Homo sapiens: one gene and its partner. The protein of the gene in region 2 binds, or shares a complex with, the protein of the main gene of each other region. Each region holds a gene or a part of one and is shown on either strand. Other genes may lie near its edges. A codon is read from its position in the direction of its gene.

Region 1 (7,023 bases), on a different chromosome or scaffold from region 2:
GACGACGGAAATGTAGTGCCTAAATCCATGGAAGATGAGAAGTAGAACAATTTTGTGTCCCTTTCCACCTCTAAACACAGAATGCAATAATGACATTGCCAGAAGAGAGATGCCCGACCTGTCTCCCATTCTGGCAATGTTTAGTAGAAAGTGGAGGGGTGAGGATGAGGTAAGAAACCACAGGCATGTGGAATTTTAAAGTACAACCTGGCAAGTCCAGGACACACCTTCTCACTCCTTTTTTTCTCTTTAACAAGGGATATAAATTATTGGTGACATATGCTGGTTCTTTCCTCTTTTATTCCTAAAGGATAACCTCCAAATCACTATTTTAACAGCTTTGGCTGTAGGCCATTCAAAATCAAGTTAACGGATGGTAGTTACAGATGAGCAGAACCACTTGATTTTGGACATATCAGGTTTTACCCCATGCAAACCAGCCAACTGATTTTTTTTTTTTTTTTTTTTTGAGAGAGAGTCTTGCTCTGTTGCCAGGCTAGAGTGCAGTGGCGCGATATCGGCTCACTGCAACCTCTGCCTCCCGGGTTCAACCTCAGCCTCTCGAGTAGCTGGGACTACTGGCACACACCACCATGCCCAGCTAATTTTTGTATTTTTAGTAGAGACAGGGTTTCACCGTGTTGGCCAGGGTGGTCTCAATCTCTTGACCTCGTGATCTGCCCGCCTCGGCCTCCCAAAGTGCTGGGATTACAGGCGTGAGCCACTGCGCCCGGCCCCCTGTTGATGTTTTTCCTGTATTTCTAGGACAGTAGTTCTCACTCTGGGCTGCACATTGGAATCACCTGGGTACTTTAGAAAACACTGCTGCCTGCATCCCACCCCTTAAGGGTCTGGTGTAATTGACCTGGGGTACAGCCTGGGTGTCAAGATTTTTGAGCTCTCTCCAGGTGACTCTGACCTGCAGCCAAGGTGAGAGGTACTGTTCTAGGAGTTTTGCTTTACTAGCAAAATATAAAGCTATAGAAAGCATCTTTGTTCCTCATAGAAATTAATGATGGGGAGGTGAGCAGAATAGTCACTCTGGGCCTACTCATGCTGTTTAATGCTCCAGCAGGTATATAAATGCTCCAGTTTACTAGGGGGTTCATAATACCTGTGAGAGCAGATAACTGAGTGTATATAGTGAGGATTTTCCAGGTCATAGTGAAAGGGCAAGGCACTAAAATCATAGCTTGTCTTGCATGATACATGGTTTGTTTGTTTTTAGACTTAATCTAGTTAGGTTTCAGTTTACAGTTTTAGGTTCACAGCAAAACTGACCAGAAAGCACAGAGAGGCACTTCCATTTACCTCCATTTACCCCACACAGGCACATCCTCCCCTACAGAGTGGTCCATTTATTACAGCTGCTGAACCCACACTGACACGTCGTTATCACTCAGAGCCTGGAGTTTACAGGAGGGCTCACTCTCCGGGTTATGTGTCCTGTGGATTTGAACAAATGTATAATGACTTTATTCATTGTTTTTTAATGAAGCTGATCTTTTCCCTCTGAAACTACAAAATGAATTTCTAGCATAGCCATAGCAGGTGTCAAGCTATACTACTAGGTAAATTTTAAGAAATGCCCAACTTTATCATATTTGCATTTCAAAATATGATTAATCACACATAGGATTTTGTTTCTTCATGCCTACAGCAAATAGAAATAAAGTGCAAGAAACTTTTCTGAGGCAAAGCTTTCACTTTGTGAACGTAAAATGTTGACTCTAATATTTTCCATACTGTAGTATATGTGTGTGTATTATGTGAGGATTCATAGTCTGCTCTTACTTTTTTATAGTAGCTAAGAATTATTATAATCGCTATAAGCAGAAACAATTATTCTTAACAAAATGAATACACACAAGAAAAGCTTTAGTTTAGCTATTAGAACTAACTCTATAATTATGACAACCATGAGATGCTGGAACAGGAGCCAGCAGAAGCCACAGCCCTCTGATATTAATATATAAAGAAACCAAAATCTGCTTGTTAAACTGAGGCAGTTGTATGGATACTTCAACCTGAAAATGCCCCCTTCTTCCTGAAACAGAACATTTAATAAAAATGGCATGCTTGGACAGGAATTTCTTTTTTAAAAAATGCTTAGTTTTTATGAATTCATAATAGATGTACATATTTAGGGGGTACCAGTGCTATTTTGATACAAGCATACAATGTGTAATGATCAAATTAGGGTAATTGGGATATTCATCACCTCAAGTATTTCTCATTTGTTTGTGTTAGGAACATTCCAATTTCACTCTTTTAGTTATTTTGAAATATATAATAAATTATTGTTAACTGTAGTCACCTTCTTGTGCTACTGAACATGATCCTTTTTCTTCTAAGCGTATTTCGTATGCATTAACCAACCCCTGTATATCCCCCTCCCCACAACCCTTCCCAGCCTCTGGTCACCTCTAGAGGTTCTACTCTCTATCTCTGTAAGTTCAGGTTTTTTTTTTTAACCTCCCAAATATGATGCTTGAGGACATGTGATATTTGTCTTTCTGTGCCTGGCTTGATCCCCTTAGCATAATGTGAAGTGCACTGGGATTCTTGATGATTGCCTCAGCACTCTCTTTACGCTACAAATTCAGCTTCATTGACATTTCTGGAGGATATTTCCAACTCTGTAGTGGGACGTTTGTTTCCCAAAGTCTTGTAAAGTAGCTGTTGTTAATTATTTCACCCAGTCATCTAATACTTACCATCTCCCACCACATGCAAGGCAGTTTGTTTGGGAGGAAGCTGAGCCTCGGAGTTAAAGGTCTATCCGAATTAAACAGCAGCCCTGTGCGGCTTCTGCTTAGCTTAGCTTAGCCGGTGACTTTTCCATAATAACTACTGTAATTAGGACACACTTTCGAGGGTTTGTTATTCATGTGGTATGTATTTGTTTGTTCATTTATTTAACAATTTATTCTGTTTATGCACCACATGTTCCAGGTACTACCCTAGGTGCCAGGGATTCAGTGTTGATTAAGGCAGGCTGGGTTTCTCCACTAAGGCAGTTCACATTCTGGATGGAGAGAAAAATGTTAGGAAGGTAACACACAATTACAGATCAGACAGGCTTCTGTCTGGGAAATTGGGTGAATATAACATGTAGACAAAGTGTAAGTTACCGAGGAGAGGACAATTTAAGAGACAGACCTCCATCTAAACGTCTCTGAAGTGACATATAAGCTGAGGTCAGCCACAGGAAACAACTAATGCTGAAAATAAAAGCTAAGCAGAAAAAAACAAACCAAACCATGGTCCCTACCTCCAAGGAAACTCTTCTACCAGATTCAACAAACAAGTCAAAACCCAGAATAGAATATTTATATTGAACTCAGATTTTTTTTTCATGTGTCACCCATCAAAAGTTGCTTAATGGATATCTTATATTCTATTATAATAGTAATGATTTAAAAATCATTTACCATAAACACTAAAGCAAAAGTTAATAGTCTTCATAGTAATATTACTTTGGACAATGACTTTTTTAAAAAATCAAAAATGACAAATTTCTCTGGAAGTGTTCATTTACTACTCCAAGGTTTCATCTGGTATTTCATTGATACATGAAGGTCTCTAAGATAGTCTTTATTAATTGTCAAAAATGTTTATATCCTTTTTATTTTAAAGTATATGTAATTAAAATTCTAGTAAGATTGGATATTCTATTAAGATTGCATTAAAATGTTTTAGAAAACATTAATAGAGCTGTTTTGCTATTTAAAAAAATATTCATGTGCTATTTTTGAAGCAGATTTTTCCAGTGTCAGAAAAAAATATTTTCATTACTGTAATCACGCTCATGGTGTTGCTCATGACTACCTTGTCTGTGAGGAAGGACCAGGGCAAAGAGAGCTCTGCTGTGTGCTCGCTGACTTCTCAGGGGCAGGGGTTGGAAATGTGGGCTAGCTGGTGTTTGGGGAAAGGTGAGCCCATGGGACACCCACAAAAATAGTTTAGAAGGTGTCCATCCTGAGTCCCTGGTCTTCCTAATATTAAGGCTACTCCAAAGAGAATACTACCCAGCAAAGAGAAGCAGAGCAAATATAGCAATTTTCTAAGTAATCACATACAAATATTTGTTTTATCTGAGCTACATAATAATGTTGGTAAAAATGAAAATAAATGTGCCTGATTTACTCAGAATTCCCTTGATGATGTTGATGATTCTCCCCCACCTCCTCCAAAGGTTTTACTTGTGTTTCAGTAATGCCCTTAATCACAATGAGTGTCATTGGTTCCATTAAATGACAATACTTGAGTCATATTTAAACAAATTCCATATCAATTTTTGTTGACCCACATAATGATTTCCTGTAAACCAGTTAATGTTTTTCAAACAAGTTGGCTTTTGTTAAATTCAGTGGCTAGATTTGAAATATTTAGTCATTTATTACAAATAGACATTAGCTTTTTTATTGCCAGAGCCTTAGGTCTGGGAGAAGTGTTAATGAATGGAAATAGAAATAAGTACTCATGGTATACATTAACTCTTTACCTCTTCTGCAAGCCATCAGTGTCAAACCAACTTCTGCAACTAGATGAGCAAGATTGTCAGCTAATCTTAATTCTACAGTATTGTGTATGTTACCAGTAAACAGTGACTATCATCATTGTTCCATGCACAAAGATTAGGATGGCTAACAAAATACAGTATTCATTAGTAATTTGGTGATCTACTTCAGGTAATGTCATCTTACCATAATTGGACCATTGCAATAAAAGGTATTAAAATTCATATTTAAAACACTTTGCAGCCACGGTAATAACAATAACAGGTTTCTGTGTTGTGGTTTTTATTGCCCTCCTCCAGACGTCGATGTCATTGAGTGCTCCTTGCAGTTCCCAGATGATGACTACTCCTGGTGGGACCTCTTCATGAAGATCTGCGTCTTCATCTTTGCCTTCGTGATCCCTGTCCTCATCATCATCGTCTGCTACACCCTGATGATCCTGCGTCTCAAGAGCGTCCGGCTCCTTTCTGGCTCCCGAGAGAAAGATCGCAACCTGCGTAGGATCACCAGACTGGTCCTGGTGGTGGTGGCAGTCTTCGTCGTCTGCTGGACTCCCATTCACATATTCATCCTGGTGGAGGCTCTGGGGAGCACCTCCCACAGCACAGCTGCTCTCTCCAGCTATTACTTCTGCATCGCCTTAGGCTATACCAACAGTAGCCTGAATCCCATTCTCTACGCCTTTCTTGATGAAAACTTCAAGCGGTGTTTCCGGGACTTCTGCTTTCCACTGAAGATGAGGATGGAGCGGCAGAGCACTAGCAGAGTCCGAAATACAGTTCAGGATCCTGCTTACCTGAGGGACATCGATGGGATGAATAAACCAGTATGACTAGTCGTGGAGATGTCTTCGTACAGTTCTTCGGGAAGAGAGGAGTTCAATGATCTAGGTTTAACTCAGATCACTACTGCAGTCTGACATGAAAAGATAGAATTTAAAATAAACTTTTAGAGATCTCATGGTCTGAAGTCATCAGATGCAGACCACGTTCGTGATCAGTGGAAACATCAAGGACAAAAGGTCCACGCAACACATGCACCTCTTCTCTAGGGCACAGAAGCGAGGCAGAGCCTCAGTTCCTCTGATGAACAAGGGAACAGGTCTTTTCCTTCTGGTTTGCTAGGTAAGGTTCAGCACCCATCTGCTGTGGCCTTCCTATGAAACGTAGTTTCAAAAGCTCGGTTTAAGAAAAAAGGAAAAGAAAAAACATTGCTTTCAGAGCTCAATGGGCATCCAATCCAGATGTTTCACAATGACAGCAACAACCTCCAACGGAATGGGAACTATTTCCAGGGTTCATGCCCAGCTCACTGTATGCTGTGTGGACATGCATTTCATGTGGCTGTGTGGTAAGAATTACAGCTTACATATGGCTTGGACCCACATCTGAGGAATCTGATGTTCACTTATACCAGAACATTATCTTGCTATTTATGAAATTATTTAAACGTTCAAAAGATTGTTTTTAACATGGTTTAATTTCCCAAAAACTACAGTTTTTTTTCTTAGCATGCTATTCAGGTAAACAGTCTTATAATAAAGCATGTCCCATTGTCAAGAAACATAAAGTGGTGTGAATACCACTGAAAATATATATATAGTATCTTCTGTAAATAATAGTACCTGTGTGAATAAGGAATAGGCTTGCCTCCCAGCCAGGCAATTTCCTGAGGGCACACTAATGATATCCCCTGAGTTGCTAAGTTGATGCTGAGACATTTTGCTGGGAATTAGTCATGGCATGATCTCTTTCAGACTCCCTGAATACCATTTAGTCCCGTAACAGTGCTCACAACTCATGTGCTAATGAATCACAAAGGCTTTAACTAGCTCCCAGGTTGTAGCCTTCGCAGGATCTAGTTTATTTGCCACATCTCTTTATGAACATATAGCGATTCGCAGATCTCTCTATTCACGGAGAGGAAGGTGTTTTGCTTCTGTAGATCTCAAGGTACTATTTTGTGGCTCTCAGCAGGAAGTAGAATTGTTCCTAAATGTGTGCTGAATGAGGACATGATGTCCCTCCTGGTGCCAGGACACATCCTGCATGGCATTCTGTGAAGGGCATACCTGCTGAGGATAATGCCAGGAGCAGCACATTTAGGGTAATTTTGCTAAAACTTCCAGATGACATATAAATTCCCTCTTTTTCCCCCTGAAACTTACCATTTCAGAGGTAATGGCTTTTTCTGTAATTTGCCTGAGAAGAAAAAAGGGATAATTTAGAAATAACACTCCAAGCCTATATATTACTAGGGCTGCATCCTCTGGAATTTAATAGAAAAATTGAATATATAGCCCTATGTAACTACAGACATCATTACAACTGTTAAGTTCTGTTCACCATGCAAGTTCTCGGTGGTGTATGTACTCTCACCTTTTGGAAACAAAACCTTGCATTGAAGGTTTTACACATGGCTTCAGAATGTTACTCTGACCATGTTTGCCTCTACTCCAGATTATCATGGCACCTAACACAGATGACATATGGCAGAATGG
Region 2 (7,293 bases):
AGTGACAGCGACCGGGGGCCCAGGCGATAGAGTCAGAAGCAGTGAAGAGGAGGTGTCAGGGCAAGAGAAAGAGGGGAGTCAAGAGCAACTCCCCCACCATCCCACTCAACTCTTCTTGCTTGTAGGCCTTTGCCTAAGCTGTTCCCTCTGCCTGACATGCCCTTTCTTGCCCTCTGCCTGGAAAACTCCCACCTGTGCCTCAGTCTTCAGCTTCACGCTCACTTTCTCCAGGAAGCCTTCTCCCAACTCTTCAGCAGGCTGGTTGGGAGCCCCTTTTCTGTTCCCACAGTATTCCAGGTCTCCTAGCCCCTACTTGCCGTACTGCTGTGAGTGGCTGTTCCTATACCTGCCCCTCAACCTGGATTGTGAGGACAAAGAGGGCAAAGTTGTGTGTGGCATGTTAAGCCCTAAGGGCTCAGCACTGAGAATGGCACATTGGGATGTTTCAATACAGATATGTGGAAGAAAAGGAAGAGGAAGAGGAAGAAGAAGAGAAAGAGAGAGAGAGAGATGATGAGCACAGCTCCTCACTCCCTCTTGCAGCAGCGAGGCACAAACACGACGGCTGGGGCAGTGGGAGTCTCTCACGCGCTTGCCCACCCAGCCCCGGTGTGGACATCCACGCTGGACACACGGCAGCATGAAAAGTGATTTGGGAGACTTGATGCTGACCACAGGACCGGAACTTCATCCCACTGAGGTCCTCCTGAGTGATCCATGTTGCCTGCTGCCACTTTTCCAGGCTGACAGGTGAGTAGAGAACGCACACAGAGCTCGGAGCATGAAGCAGAACAGGGAGGAGAAGCCCAGGCGCAGCGCAGCTCATGGCTGGGGCACATGCCTGGAGTCGGATTGCCTGGGATCAGGCTGTGCTCTGCCACTTTCTACCTGTGTGCCTTTGTGCGAGTGACTTAACTTCTCCCAGCCTCTGTTTCCTTCTCTGTAAGGTGGGGGCAGGAATTGCATCTAATGGCAGAATGGTGGGGAGAATCAGGTGTTGATTTGTGTCAAGGGTTTACAATGGGGCCTGGTAGTAGACAGCCCTTCAGAAATGCTGGCTTTGTTTCTTAACTTTTCTGTCTTCCAGCCTGTGCTTCCTGAATCCTACCTAATGGAGTGATTTGAGGACTGGTTGTTTTAAATCTTTCCTTTTCTTTACTCTTTGCCTTTTGCCCACCTCGAGATCTGCAGTAGAAACTGGTCATGCACGGAGGGTGTGCAGGGAAGGGAGCATTCTAGAGCTTTGGAATGAGCCCTGACATCTGTATAAAAGCTAGCAGCATCCTCCTGTCTTCAGAATGACTCAGGTGCTCAGAGAGGCGAAGTATCCATCAGTTGTCACACAGTGAGGAAGCAGTGGCGTCGGGATCTAAGCTGAAGTGAGCCTGGCTGAGCCATGGTACCCACCCCCGGGACTGCTGCCCACAGGGCCAGCACCATGATTGGTGCATCACTGAGCCCAGGAGAGGGTGAGCTTTATGGCAAGGTTCTCCAGGACTAAGGGGGAAGGCTGCTCCTGGCCTTCTATGTGTGTGTGTGTGTGTGTGTGTGTGTGTGTGTGTGTAAAGGAGGCTGCGGAAGGAGAGGAAAGGCAAATGCAGGAACTATTTGCTCTTGAGGCAACAGTAGACTCAGGGGGTGAAGGATATCAGACATCAATGGCTTAATGAGGATTATCCATGAGTGTCTCTACTCTCACTGCCCCAACTTCCCTCTGGTGAATAACAGTCAGGAGAGGCCCCTGTCCTCTGCTCTTCCAGTGCTTGCTGACTTCCAGCCACGGGAGCCATTGTACTCCCTCTCTAAGAGTCTCTGTGTATTCGAAGGTTATTACCAAGAGCTTATAGAGGCAGAGGTTAGGAGGAGAAGGAGGAAATGAAAAATGAGGAAAGAGAGCAGTTGGAGTGAGGCTTTGGCCTTGGGGATGAAGTAGACGCTCACTCCTGGGCTCCCAGATTCCCAGGGTGGCAATGAATAGACTCCACTCATGTCCTCTGGCCACCATGCAAGAAGCCAGCCTGAGATGTGGCCAAGTGCTTGGTGACCCTGCGCACTGGCTATCACCAACTGGGCAGGGGCTTCCACATAGGGCACCAGGAGTCGCTTGCACCCGCCAGTCAGACCCCTTGTGCTGCCTCGGGAAGAGGAGACAGGGAGGAGAAGGAAAGTGAGGCTGTGGGTCCAGAGGGGAGTGTGGTGGGGCTGCAGCTTCAGGATCTGAGGGATGGGTCTCGGTTCTTCCTCCCTCCCTGGGTGGCTGGGGCCTCTCTGAACTTCTGCTGCCTTCTCCATCTGAGGACGCATTGTGAGATCCACACCACAGGTTTTCTTGTTGTGAGGATGTGATGGAATGTGGAAATGTCTGAGGCATAATAGGTGTTCAGCAAACAGCCCCTTCTACCCTCCTCCTTATGTGAGAGTTTAACGAGCCAGGTGCAGGGAGAGGAGGATGCCCAGGAGAACCTGCTGCATCAAAGCTGGAGGGATGTGGTTTATCAGGAATGATGGGAGCAGAACATCCGCTCCGTACTGGCTGCTTTAAGTGCTATTGACACATCCTCCTTTCACCCTCACAAGAGCCCAAGAGCCCCATGATACTGTTGTCCCCACTGTACAGATGAGCAATCAGAGGTTGAAGTTGGCAGCTTATCCAAGGTCTCTCCGATGGTGAGTGGCAGACCTGAGAGTCAAACTCACATCTTAAATGTCATTAAGCACAGCCTGTGTATGGAGAGGCTGAGTCCCAGAGAAGAAAACTGACCCCACCCCTCAGTGTGGGCAGATTCAAGCCTGGGGAGAGGCAAGGGAGGGGGCAGAAACTTGGAGGGTAGATGGACCTGACTTTAGGTTCTAGCTGGATGACTTACTTGCTGTGTGTCTCTAGGAACTTGGAGGGTAGATGGACCTGACTTTAGGTTCTAGCTGGATGACTTACTTGCTGTGTGTCTCTAGGAACTTGGAGGATAGATGGACCTGACTTTAGGTTCTAGCTGGATGACTTACTTGCTGTGTGTCTCTAGGAAAGTTTCTCAGCTCTCAAACCTCTGTTTTCTCATCTGCAAGATGGGGATAATATTAACCAACTGGCTAGGTCATGAGGATTAAATCTGACAACTCTACCTAACCGCCTGGTGCAGCCAGGTGCCCACAAAATGGGCGGCCCTGCCAGACTTCTGAAATAGTTGTGCCTCCCACCACAAACTGTCTGCTATTGACTGAGAAGAGAAGCATGTTCTCTTCCAAACTCAAAGACCCTTATGTTCTGGAAGATCTCTGTAGCAATGAAGAGTGCCACCTTCAAGCTGCTGCTGGTCCAGGCCAAGGGTATATTGAGGTGGGTCCATCCCTCACCCAGAGTGTGTGCTGAGGCATATTGCAGCCCATATTTTGAGGGGTTTTTCCTGCTATTCATTTTGTGTTGCCGCCAGAGAAAACTAAACTGCAGCTCCTGGCTGTCGGGGAAGAGCTGTGCTTCTGCCAGGGCTAGTGTGCCTGGCACCAGCTCAGGCATGTACCAGAGCCGAATGCCGTTTGCAGGCAAATGTACACACAAAAAGATTCCAGCACACGCGTGCACCAGCCAACACAGAGTTGCCACGGCACGCAACAGCGGGCCATGCACGTGCCTGCTGACTCGGCTGTCATCTTCCGACTCTCTTCCGTGATCAGAAGACTGTCTCAGCCTCTGTCTGTCTCCACGTCTGTCTGTCTGTGGATCAGTGTGTTTTGAGTCTGACAGTCTACCTGGCTGGTTTCCTTTTTTCTTGCTCTGTCCCTCTCTCCTTGTGTTTCTACCCATCTCCCTATCTCTGCCACTCTCTGTCTCTGTTTTTCTTTCTCTTTCTCCCCTCCTTTGTATCACTCCCTAGGTCCGACATTGCCTCTTTCTCGATTTCCGATTCTCTCTGAGTCTCTCTCTCTCTCTCTCTTTCTCTAACTCTTCTGTCTCTGTCCTTCCCTGTCTTCTTTTTCCTGTGACACTCTCCTGGAAACGCATCAAAAACTGAAGTGGCCGGATTTCAAGTGACAAACAGCACTACACCCAGAATCCGCCCCCTCCCCAACACGGCTGCCTTCCTCCTCCACATCCCTGTCACGAAGAGAAGCCTATTGTGTCAGGCCCAGGGAGTTCGAGTTGAAGGGCCTGGGGGTCTGTGCTCTGACTGCTCTCAGCCACTTCCCCATTGGCTCCCAGCAGCCTGTGCTCAGCAAGGGCTGAGCGACAGGGGAGGCTCTCGTCCATAAAAGGGGGGAAGAGGCACCAGAACTGCCATTTGAAGGGGCTTTGGTGGTGTTCACAGCTGCCTCTTTGGCACCTCCTCCCAAGCCGGAGTCAAGGAGGCCCCTGAGCCTTGGACCAGCCACTGCCACCTCCGACCTGCTCGGCCAGAAGCTGCCCAGGGACAAAGCAGAGTGCAGGTAACATCCAGAGGGGGCACTGGAATTCTATCGCTTGGTTTTATTTGCTTATTCCTGGTCCTCTGGACCTAGAGATGGTGGGAGCTCGGGCTGGGGATTTTAGGTTTGGGTCTGATTATCTAGCAAAGGTGGTTACAGTTAGGAGGCTAGTTCACAAAAGCCAGACCAGTGAGAGACTGCTCTTTGGACTCTCCCTTTCTGCACAGTCCTGGCTTAAACAGGTGGTAAGCTCTCTCCCAAGAGGACCACCCTTTGGCTTTAGCTCCAGGGTCTCCTTCTTGCAGTCTCCCACACAGCAGTTCCCATGCCATTCCCAGGGTCTGGGGAAAATGGGACACCCTGGATGGGAGAAGTGAGAGGTTTCACTAATCAGGGTGATTTTAAAGGTCAATGAGTCTCACTGGACTTAGAGAACAATGGCTTGAGGACATTAATGAGATCCAAGGCTCTGGCATTTATCACATAACATGTACATCAATGTACGGCCAGGTTCGGCCTTTTCATTCTTTTCGGATTGTGTTTAATTGCTGACAGGGTGCTGGTTTGAGCGGCTTCTTTTGATGGAATTTGATACAGGTTGAAGTTTGGGGATGTTTTGTTGGAAGGGAATGGGAAAAGGGAGTGACAACAAGCCAGGAGGCCCAGGCTTAGCAGGCATTTTCTTGTCCATTTTACTTGGAAAGGACTTGTTGCTCTCCTATTAACTACAGCCAGAGGAGTCTAAGGCCAGGAGGAGGCTCAAAGGGAAAGCCATTTGCTCACTGGTCCAGAGACCCATATTCAGAAAAGTACCAAGTCTCAAAGTTTGATTCTAGCAAAAAGCTGATGAGTTTCAGGAAAAAAAAAAAAAAAAAAAAAGCCTGCTGACTACTCCAAGGTTGAAGAGTAAATTCTGCAACTGCTTACTTTTTCCTGGGTATCAAGAATCCCTCCAAGCTCTACAAACATTACTTAATTAAGTCTCCAGTCTTCCCAGGGGAAACAAGCTCTTTCGATTATTGGATCTGATTTCAATTCCCCTCCCACAGACTGAAAGTCTTCATTATCATCTTTCTTCCAAGGGTTGCTGAAATATACAAGGCTTGCCTTTCTAATTTGACAGGCATCCCAGTCGAGATCCATTGCAAAGCATTGCAGAATGTCGATCCTCTTCTGTTCTTTCTCACCCCAGGCCTCACTCCCACCCCTCTGTGGCACCTTCCTTCTCTTTTCCCCTCCTCTTCTCCCCCCAGTCCCACCACACCTTGCCTTTGTTCTATTTTTGCAGGTCATTTATCTTCAGGCTTTGAGATCTGCGTGGGGGGAGCTGTTGCAGCAGCCCAAGCCGGTGAGTTATGCTGCCTGGGGGTGGTTTGCGTTCACTGACGGGATCTCAAGCCCACTGCTTTGCCCCAGCTGAGCTAGAGGTGTGATAGGTGGCAGGCAAACCCTATGCCTCTGTTGGCAGCTGGGAGGGGGATGTCACACTGGTTCCCAAGGCTATGTGGCGGAAGGCAGCACATTTTAAGGGAGCAGGCAAAGGGATCAGCTCTGGGGCTATTTGAGAGATTTGCGATCTTAAAACACGTGGAAGGAGTTAAGGTTTCTTGAAGTAACTCCTGGGAGGCAGGAATTTTCCATCTGTCATCTACACGTGTGTCTCACAACACCTGAAACAGTGCTGGGCTGAAATCCCAGATCCTACCACTCACTTACTGTGTGACTTTGGAACAGTAGAAGTCCCTCTCTGAGTCATACTTTCTTTACCTGTATGATGAGAATAATAATAATATTCACCTCCTAAGGTTATTGCAAGTCTCCAATGGGATATAGCAAAATGCCTGGCATTCAGTAGGTGCTCAATAAATACTGGCATGACTGCTCAGATTTTCACTGTTCCGAAGTGGTGAGGTTGGACCTTTCTCTCCATCGATTATCATATCGCTGATCATCCCACTCCATCATGCTGTGTGCTATGTCCAGGAGATATGATCTAATGTCTAATATTTTCATTTGAGGGGCTGGTGCTCCTTTCCCCTCCCCATCCCAGCAGAAGACTTTTTATTTCATCTGCTGCATCAGGATCATGAAGTCTCTTTTTGATCGATACTCCCTAAATCCACCTCCCACTACCCACCTCCTTGGGTCATTCCTGCACAATTGTCGTATTTATTAGATCTCTTCCATCATTGTAAGAGAGATCAATAGTTACTGGTTCGATTTCAATGCATGCCTGACAAAGTGTGGTTACACAGCTGATTTCTCTCACTGTATTCACTCATCTCAGCCCATGAATGTTGGCTAATCTTGCTGGGTCTGACAAAGTGATAAACCTGTTTCACTGAGACAGAGCTGGCCACTGTGGTAGGCAGTGAACATCGGCTGGAGACACCCAGGTAAGCCCCAGGATCAGACCCTCGAAATGGAGTGGGGTCTGTTAGTGCTGTGAAGCGCAGCCTCATCAGTCCCTCCCAGCCTGGATCCAGACTGATGCTCCTGGCAGGAGGACGATGGCCTAGGTCCATGAGGCACATGGCTTGGCTCAGGGGGCTCCTCCGAGTCCATCCAGGTCATCCCACTGGCCAGAGCGGCTGGCCACAAGCCGCAGACATATGCACCGAGGCAATTTGTTGATGCATTGGCTTGAACTGCCATTTGGTCCCTGTCCTATTCCTGGACGATTTGATTTAACTTGACAGCGGTTTACTGAGCAGTTATTATGTGGCAGGGTCTCTTGCCCACTGGTCCCTAGGAACAAAGGGCAGACTCAGAGAGCAGCAGGAGGGAGAGAATTGGTGTTTGTGATTCACACGGTATGTCAGCATCCTGAATCAAAATCTACTCTCCCTCCCCACTTCTCTCTCTCTTATTGTGTTCACTTCCCTTCCCTTTTTT

What was found.
Region 1: the proteins of PDYN (region 2) and OPRK1 are in contact, whole or in part, in a cryo-EM structure (PDB 8F7W), measured with the Homo sapiens proteins. Residues at the interface, in NP_001177821.1 of Homo sapiens: Tyr207, Gly208, Gly209, Phe210, Leu211, Arg212, Arg213, Ile214; in NP_000903.2 of Homo sapiens: Thr111, Gln115, Trp124, Val134, Ile135, Asp138, Tyr139, Met142, Lys200, Glu209 (codon at 4,837), Cys210 (codon at 4,840), Asp216 (codon at 4,858), Tyr219 (codon at 4,867), Lys227 (codon at 4,891), Val230 (codon at 4,900), Phe293 (codon at 5,089), Ile294 (codon at 5,092), Glu297 (codon at 5,101), His304 (codon at 5,122), Ala308 (codon at 5,134), Leu309 (codon at 5,137), Tyr312 (codon at 5,146), Tyr313 (codon at 5,149), Ile316 (codon at 5,158), Tyr320 (codon at 5,170).

The regions. Positions count from the first base shown.
Region 1 is NC_000008.11:53,227,629-53,234,651, reverse strand, and holds part of OPRK1 (kappa-type opioid receptor), read left to right. Parts: intron 1-4,398; exon of another isoform or gene 4,399-4,822; coding exon 4,823-5,355; coding exon of another isoform or gene 5,356-5,442; 3' UTR 5,443-7,023. UniProt on the Homo sapiens protein: G-protein coupled opioid receptor that functions as a receptor for endogenous alpha-neoendorphins and dynorphins, but has low affinity for beta-endorphins.
Region 2 is NC_000020.11:1,991,037-1,998,329, reverse strand, and holds the start of PDYN (proenkephalin-B preproprotein), read left to right. Parts: upstream 1-4,271; 5' UTR 4,272-4,419; intron 4,420-4,581; exon of another isoform or gene 4,582-4,643; intron 4,644-5,523; exon of another isoform or gene 5,524-5,686; 5' UTR 5,687-5,746; intron 5,747-7,293.